Regions from separate parts of the Homo sapiens genome. Here region 2 is linked to region 1. The links come from fine-mapping of genetic effects on gene expression. Tissue or cell type: whole blood. Region 1 holds a variant in brackets; the other region holds the start of a gene. All regions are shown on one strand. Distances are between the middles of the regions.

The links. PIP is the estimated chance that this variant, and not a neighbour inherited with it, causes the effect.
Region 2: it holds the start of PCOLCE2, and the variant in region 1 is fine-mapped to the expression of PCOLCE2 in whole blood (TOPMed, PIP above 0.99).

The regions. Positions count from the first base shown.
Region 1 is chr3:142,859,956-142,862,859 of GRCh38, forward strand. The region is part of intron 2 of PCOLCE2 (procollagen C-endopeptidase enhancer 2); the gene reads right to left. Among named protein-coding and RNA genes, the nearest start is that of PCOLCE2, 28 kb to the right of the region's middle. The variant T/TATCTTCC (reference allele first, on the strand shown) is at 1,525.
Region 2 is chr3:142,887,792-142,890,695 of GRCh38, forward strand. It overlaps PCOLCE2 (procollagen C-endopeptidase enhancer 2), which reads right to left and starts at 1,292. Exons shown (of 9, transcript NM_013363.4): 1 at 1,023-1,292. The coding sequence starts at 1,105. LOC124909443 (a long non-coding RNA gene) reads left to right here and starts at 473. Exons shown (of 2, transcript XR_007096122.1): 1 at 473-668; 2 at 1,800-2,904. RefSeq lists a silencer at 1,235-1,284.

The sequences.
Region 1 (2,904 bases):
CATCCAATGTTCTCTTAAATGAGTAAAAGACAGGCTTTACATGGTAGCATTAAATTGCTACAAAAGAGAACAAATTGTTTTTAAATCCAATTATTATATTAAAAAGTATGTGCATAGTTTACAATATAAAAGTATGTCCATAGTTTTTAACAGCAATGGGAAATAAGTCCTTGCCCTCTTCCTGCCCCTGACAGCCACTCCTCAGAAGCAACCAGTGTAATTCTTTCAGACAGTTTGCGTGAAATTTATTTCCTTGTTGCTTAATATATTATATGCTTATGCTGCTACTTCTTGACTTAGCCCTTTTAAACTTCACCTCTTTGCTTCCTGTTATTCCCCCTATTCCTCTGTCAAAAATTCTGGTTAAATCCATATTCAAGATTTTCATGACTACAGCCACATGAATATTAAATTTTTCACTGCTGGGCTAATATTTTTTTTCATTTTTCCTAAAGCTAATAATTGCCTTTTTGTTGTTGTTGTTGTTGTTGTTGTTTTGTTTGATTGCAATGTCGCGATCTCGGCTCACTGCAACCTCTGCCTCCCAAGCTCAAGCTATTCTCCTGCCTCAGCCCCCCAAGTAGCTGGGATTACAGGCGCCCACCACCACGCCCAGCTAATTTTGTACTTTTACTAGAGACAAGGTTTCACCATGTTGGTCAGGCTGGTCTCAAACTCCTGACCTCAACTGATCCGCCTGTCTCGGCCTCCCAAAGTGCTAGGATTATAGGTGTGAGCCACCACTCCCGGCCCATGCCTTGTTCTTTAAGTTAGCTTAGTTTTCTATGTGCCTATCACTAAAACCCCTCTCAATACCGGCCAGGCACCAGTATTCTATCAAGCTCCATTCTCTTCTTGGAAACACCCATTCTGGAGCTCTCCTTCCTCCTGCCCACCCTCTATCCAGTCTGGACTGGTCACTCTCAAGGCCTGCAGCACAGCTGTGGGCTGGGACTTCACTTCTTCACCAATTCAGGAACCCCCATTCCCAGGGCTTCTAGGTCATTTTCCTTGCTTGTTTTATTCCCTCATTTTTCTGGAGATCATCCTCCTTTAGTTTTCTTACCAAAGGTGTACAGAGATTAAAAGTTTCAGATAGTACACCTCTGAAAATGTCTTTATTATTCTGTACTCAACACTTGTCTGCCAGTTTGGCAAGGTACAGAATTGTAGCTTTAAATGGTTTTCTCAGAACGCTAAAGGCTTTGCTCCACTGCCTTCTAGCTTCCAGCAATAGGCTGATGCTGTTCTTTCCCCTTCTATGTGACTGTCCTCCTCTGCAGAGAGTTGTAGGATTTTTGTGAGTAAATTTAACAAAGATGCACCTTGGTGTTTATCTTTCTTCATTCATTTGTGCTGAGTGTTATTTCTTTGATAACTCCCTCCTCTCCAAATTCCCTGTTCTTTCTTTTTAGAACTCTCGTTAGTCAGACTTGGACTTCCCTGACAGGATTCTCTAATTTTCTTATCTTTTCTCTTCAATACTCTACCTCTTATTTTGTTCTACCTGCTGAGTGTCAAGTT[T/TATCTTCC]AGCCCTGATACTAATTTTTTTATCTCTATTATCAAGTTTTAAATTTCCAACAGTGTTTTTCTTGTTGTTTCCTTTGTTTTTAGTATCCTGCTTTGATTTTATGTGCACAGTGTCTTTTCACATCTCCCTGAGGACGATAATGATTATTATTTTGACATTTTCTTCTGCTCTGCACTGTTTCTGTTGCCTTGGAGTTTTTGTTTCCCTCGGTTTGGGCTCTGCCTTTTCATGTAAGAGGCTTTCCTCAAATGTCTAGTAATCCCCAACTGGCTGTTCACATTCAGAACTGAGGTGAGGCTGACTGGAAGCTCTGTGGCAGGGCTTGTCACCAGTGTGATGGGGACGAGCTGGCTTTTGCCTTGGGCCTCCCAAATGTCAGTATCTGGATAGAGGTCCTTTCTCAAGGGCTGTTCATTTTCTCTAAGATTGTTCCATGCCTCGCCTGAGGTGTAAAGACCTTGCTGCAGCTTTCATCGGAGGAGCAGGGAAAGAGGTGGGGCCGGGGTCTCACCATTCTAGTACACAGACTGTAATTACCCTGTTTTCAGTGCCACACCTGGGCCTGACCTCTTCTGCTAGGCTTGCAGTTCTGAAGCCCAGAACCCCTGTGGTTCCCAGAGCATACTCCCTGCCAGGCTGGAGGGAGAAGGTGGGGAGGTAGAAGAGAGACAGCACCCTTGCTGCTGGAGGTGGAGGAGGGAACCTGTAGGGTTAACCGCTCTTACAGAGGCCTTCAAACAGAACTCCAACTTCTAACCTCATCTGCCCTCCTGCCTTCCAAGAAACCAGGTGCCTCCAGCTCCAGAGCCTTTCTAGAATTCTGTGGCACAAATCGGCTTGTTTCCTACTGACACCTCCCTTCTCCTCTGGCAGGGGAGTGTTCGTTCTCTCTCTTCTGTTAATTCAGTCACCACTGACCATCTGCTTTCTTATCTTCCAAAATCTTGTTGGTATCTCTCATGTACTATTAATTCTGTTCCAATTCCATTTTTCCTGTGAGTTTAAACTTTTCAATTCCCTTACTGTAATTTTGGTGGGAAGAGAAATACTGAAATAAATGCTTAAATACATAAATAAATGCTTAATTCATCAGGTTTCACGAGAAGCCACTGAGGTGATCTTTATTAGGACATAATAAGAATGATAGATGCTGTATTTGTAGGTTATCTAGAAGACAATGTCATGTATAACATTATAAAATAATGTATAAGAGTATATTTTTAAAATGGAACCCAGATCTGTTAAGCACCTATCAAATATCCAGAGAACTCCAAAGGACTGAAAGACAGCTATACTACCATCTGTAATGGCTTTATACTATTCTAATGTACACTTGCACCATCATTTATACAAGAAATCTCAAATTTTTCTAAATTTAG
Region 2 (2,904 bases), 28 kb after region 1:
GAAGAAAAGATAATGTAATTTGAAACATGGTCTAACAATCTGATGTTACCTTCAGAAAGGTGTAGCCTATTAATATAAATAAAAGTTAATGTTGATTAATCAATGCTTGCACCATATAAGGGATCTGAAAATTTGCTAGCTCCTAGAATATTTAAATTATAGCCTGACAAAGCATTCAGTCCAGCGCCATCTGTCTCCATCATAATAACACAAGATTATATATATGTATAATCAAGTCCTCGGCATTGTGGCAAAGTCTTGTAGGAAAATGGTAAATACATCAATTTAACTGGGGGAGTGGGAGAGAAGGTAAGAGCCAGGCTGAATGAGAAGCATGGTTTTAAAGAAAGACAGGCAAGCAATTGGTTAATATAAAAAAAGTTTGTCGTTCCCATATTTGGAGAGATGCCCAGTTCTCCTCCCCCTTTCTGAAAATCACTCGCCATTGGCAGAGCTTCCCATCGAAAGGGAGGCTGATGTTGATGGAGGCTGAAGAGGTGATGCCAAAGTTGGCCACCGGGCAGGTCCCACAGCCCAGCTCCTGGGGCCTTCCAGAGGTTGGCGAAGAGTTAACTTTCCGGAGCGGCTCCCTAGGCGCCGCGCCGCTAGGGTTGTTCCCTAGTTTACGTCTCTGGGCAAAGCCTCTCGGGGAAGGAAAAAAAACAGCGGTAAACCAAAATCCACATATTTGGGCCCCAGTGCTTCCCTCTGGCCCCATAGACACGAGGAGAGGGGAGACACAAGTCAGATTAAGCCCCGCCACGTGGTGGCCAAGCCAGCTGCAGGGCCATCCGGCAGGCCGGGCTGGGGACCCAGGAGGGAGCCCCGCGAGCAAGGATGGGTCCCGAAGTCCCGGGCTTAGCCTACCCGAGGGTGGCGGACGCCTGCACCGCGCGGGAGCGCAGGGTCGAGCGCTGGGTCACCCAGGCGCGCCGAAGCGGGTTGAGTAAAGCAGCAGGCGAGGCTGCAGGGGTGGAGGAAGGGAAAGGAGAGAAAGGGAGCCCGGGCAGGGGTCGCGTTACCTCTCTGGGGACTGCTGCCGCGAGAGCTGGGTGGCGGCAGCCAGCAGCAGGCAGAGTGGCGCCCAGGCGTTCGCGCCCCTCATGGCAGCGTAGACGCTCGGGGTTTGCACCCCACGGCGCGCGCGCCGGCACACACGCCCCTCCGCACCCACCGCGCTCACACCGCCGCTCACACTGGCAGCAGCGCTGGCTCACACCGGCGCTCGGCTGCCCGCGCGCTCCCTCTCACGCGCGCACCGCCGCGGGGCGGCCCAGGTAGCCGGGGGATACGCGGCCGGCAGGGCGGAGGCACTTTTAAAGGCGATTATGGTGCCGTCTGACTCGACGCTTAGTTTCCCCTGAGGAGCTGCTCTGGCAGCCACAGGCCACTGCTGAATATCCCGTTTGTTCTCCGGCGGCAGGAGGGGCGGCTCCGAGGCCAGAGCCGCCCCCTCTCGTGGGGCGGGCGAACGTCTCCTCCCGGCACCCCGGGACCGACGGGTCCTCTCTCGTCCAGCCCTCAGGGACCCCGGGGAGAAGAGGAACCCCTTGCGGAGTGGCACCCCAGCGGCCCGGGCCCCGACGCCCAGAGACGATTCTCAGGGAGGGCTTCTGGTTTTGCTTTGGGGAATGTTTTTCCCAGTTGCTTTTAAATAAAAAGTAATAGCGCTTGCTGGCTGCTGGAAAGCCTGGGGGTCCTTCTTTGTCTCCTTCAAAACCCAGATCCAAGGAAAGAAAGGGAAAAGGGATTTTATTGTATTTTAACTTCTGTGCTTATTCTCCTCTCTCTCTCTCTAGATACTTTTCTTTTTTTTACTGGTATGACAATGACAAGGAAGACAGTCTCTGTGCCGGGATTTAAACACGGGTTTTCAGGCGAGCGATTTCTGTGTGAACTGTCATTAAATGTCAGATAATGAAGACGGAACCAAATCAGCAAATCTCACCATCCCATGTCATGTTCTGAAAATGGTGTTTCTCTGCTTGCATCTCTCTGTTCTTAGACCTTTCCAACAGCATCTTTCTGTGGTATTAACGGGTTAAAATTTACGGAGAATTCGTTTTTCTTAGACGAACAATTCTAGCCTTGTGGAATCAATACTCTCTTTTACTTAATTACAGAAATATAATTTTAAACATTTATTTTGTTAAGAGCTTCCCAATAACCAGGGATTAATAAAAGAATGACAGGAACAGACTAGATTCATAGAGATTTTTAATAATCACCAGCTATGGGAGATACAGCTTAACTTTGATGCCTCACGTTGTTCCTTCTAAATTGTTTTCACCTTTCTAAGCAAGAAAATTAAGTATTAAAGTAGTTCTTATCGAGACTTTATTTCTAATAATGAGCTGTTAAGAATCTAAACACGGGTGGGCGCGATGGCCCACGCCTGTAATCCCAGCACTTTTGGAGGCCGAGGCGGGCGGATCACGAGGTCAGGAGTTCGAAACCAGTCTGGCCAAGATGGTGAAACCCCGCCTCGACTAAAAATACAAAAAATTAGCCAGGTGTTGCGGTGTGCGTCTGTAATCCCGGGTACTCGGGAAGCTGAGGCAGAAGTATCGCGTGAACCCGGGAGGCGGAGGTTGCAGTGAGCCGAGATCACGCCATTGCACTCCAGCCCCGGGCGACAGAGTGAGACTCCATCTCAAAAAAGAAAAAAAAAAAAAAAAGAACCTAAACACTCCTGGCAAGGAAGTAAGTAAAACTGGCTACAGGAAATATTCTGACTTTTCATAGTGAGTGCACCCTGAAGCCTATACTAGGAACCAGAATATACGGACAGGACTTAGATTATCTTACCATTTTTTTAAAAAGTGAAGGCAAAAACATCATAAAGTACAACTTTCAAAACTTCTCTACAGGCACCACACCCTTTATGACATTAAAAAAAAGGGT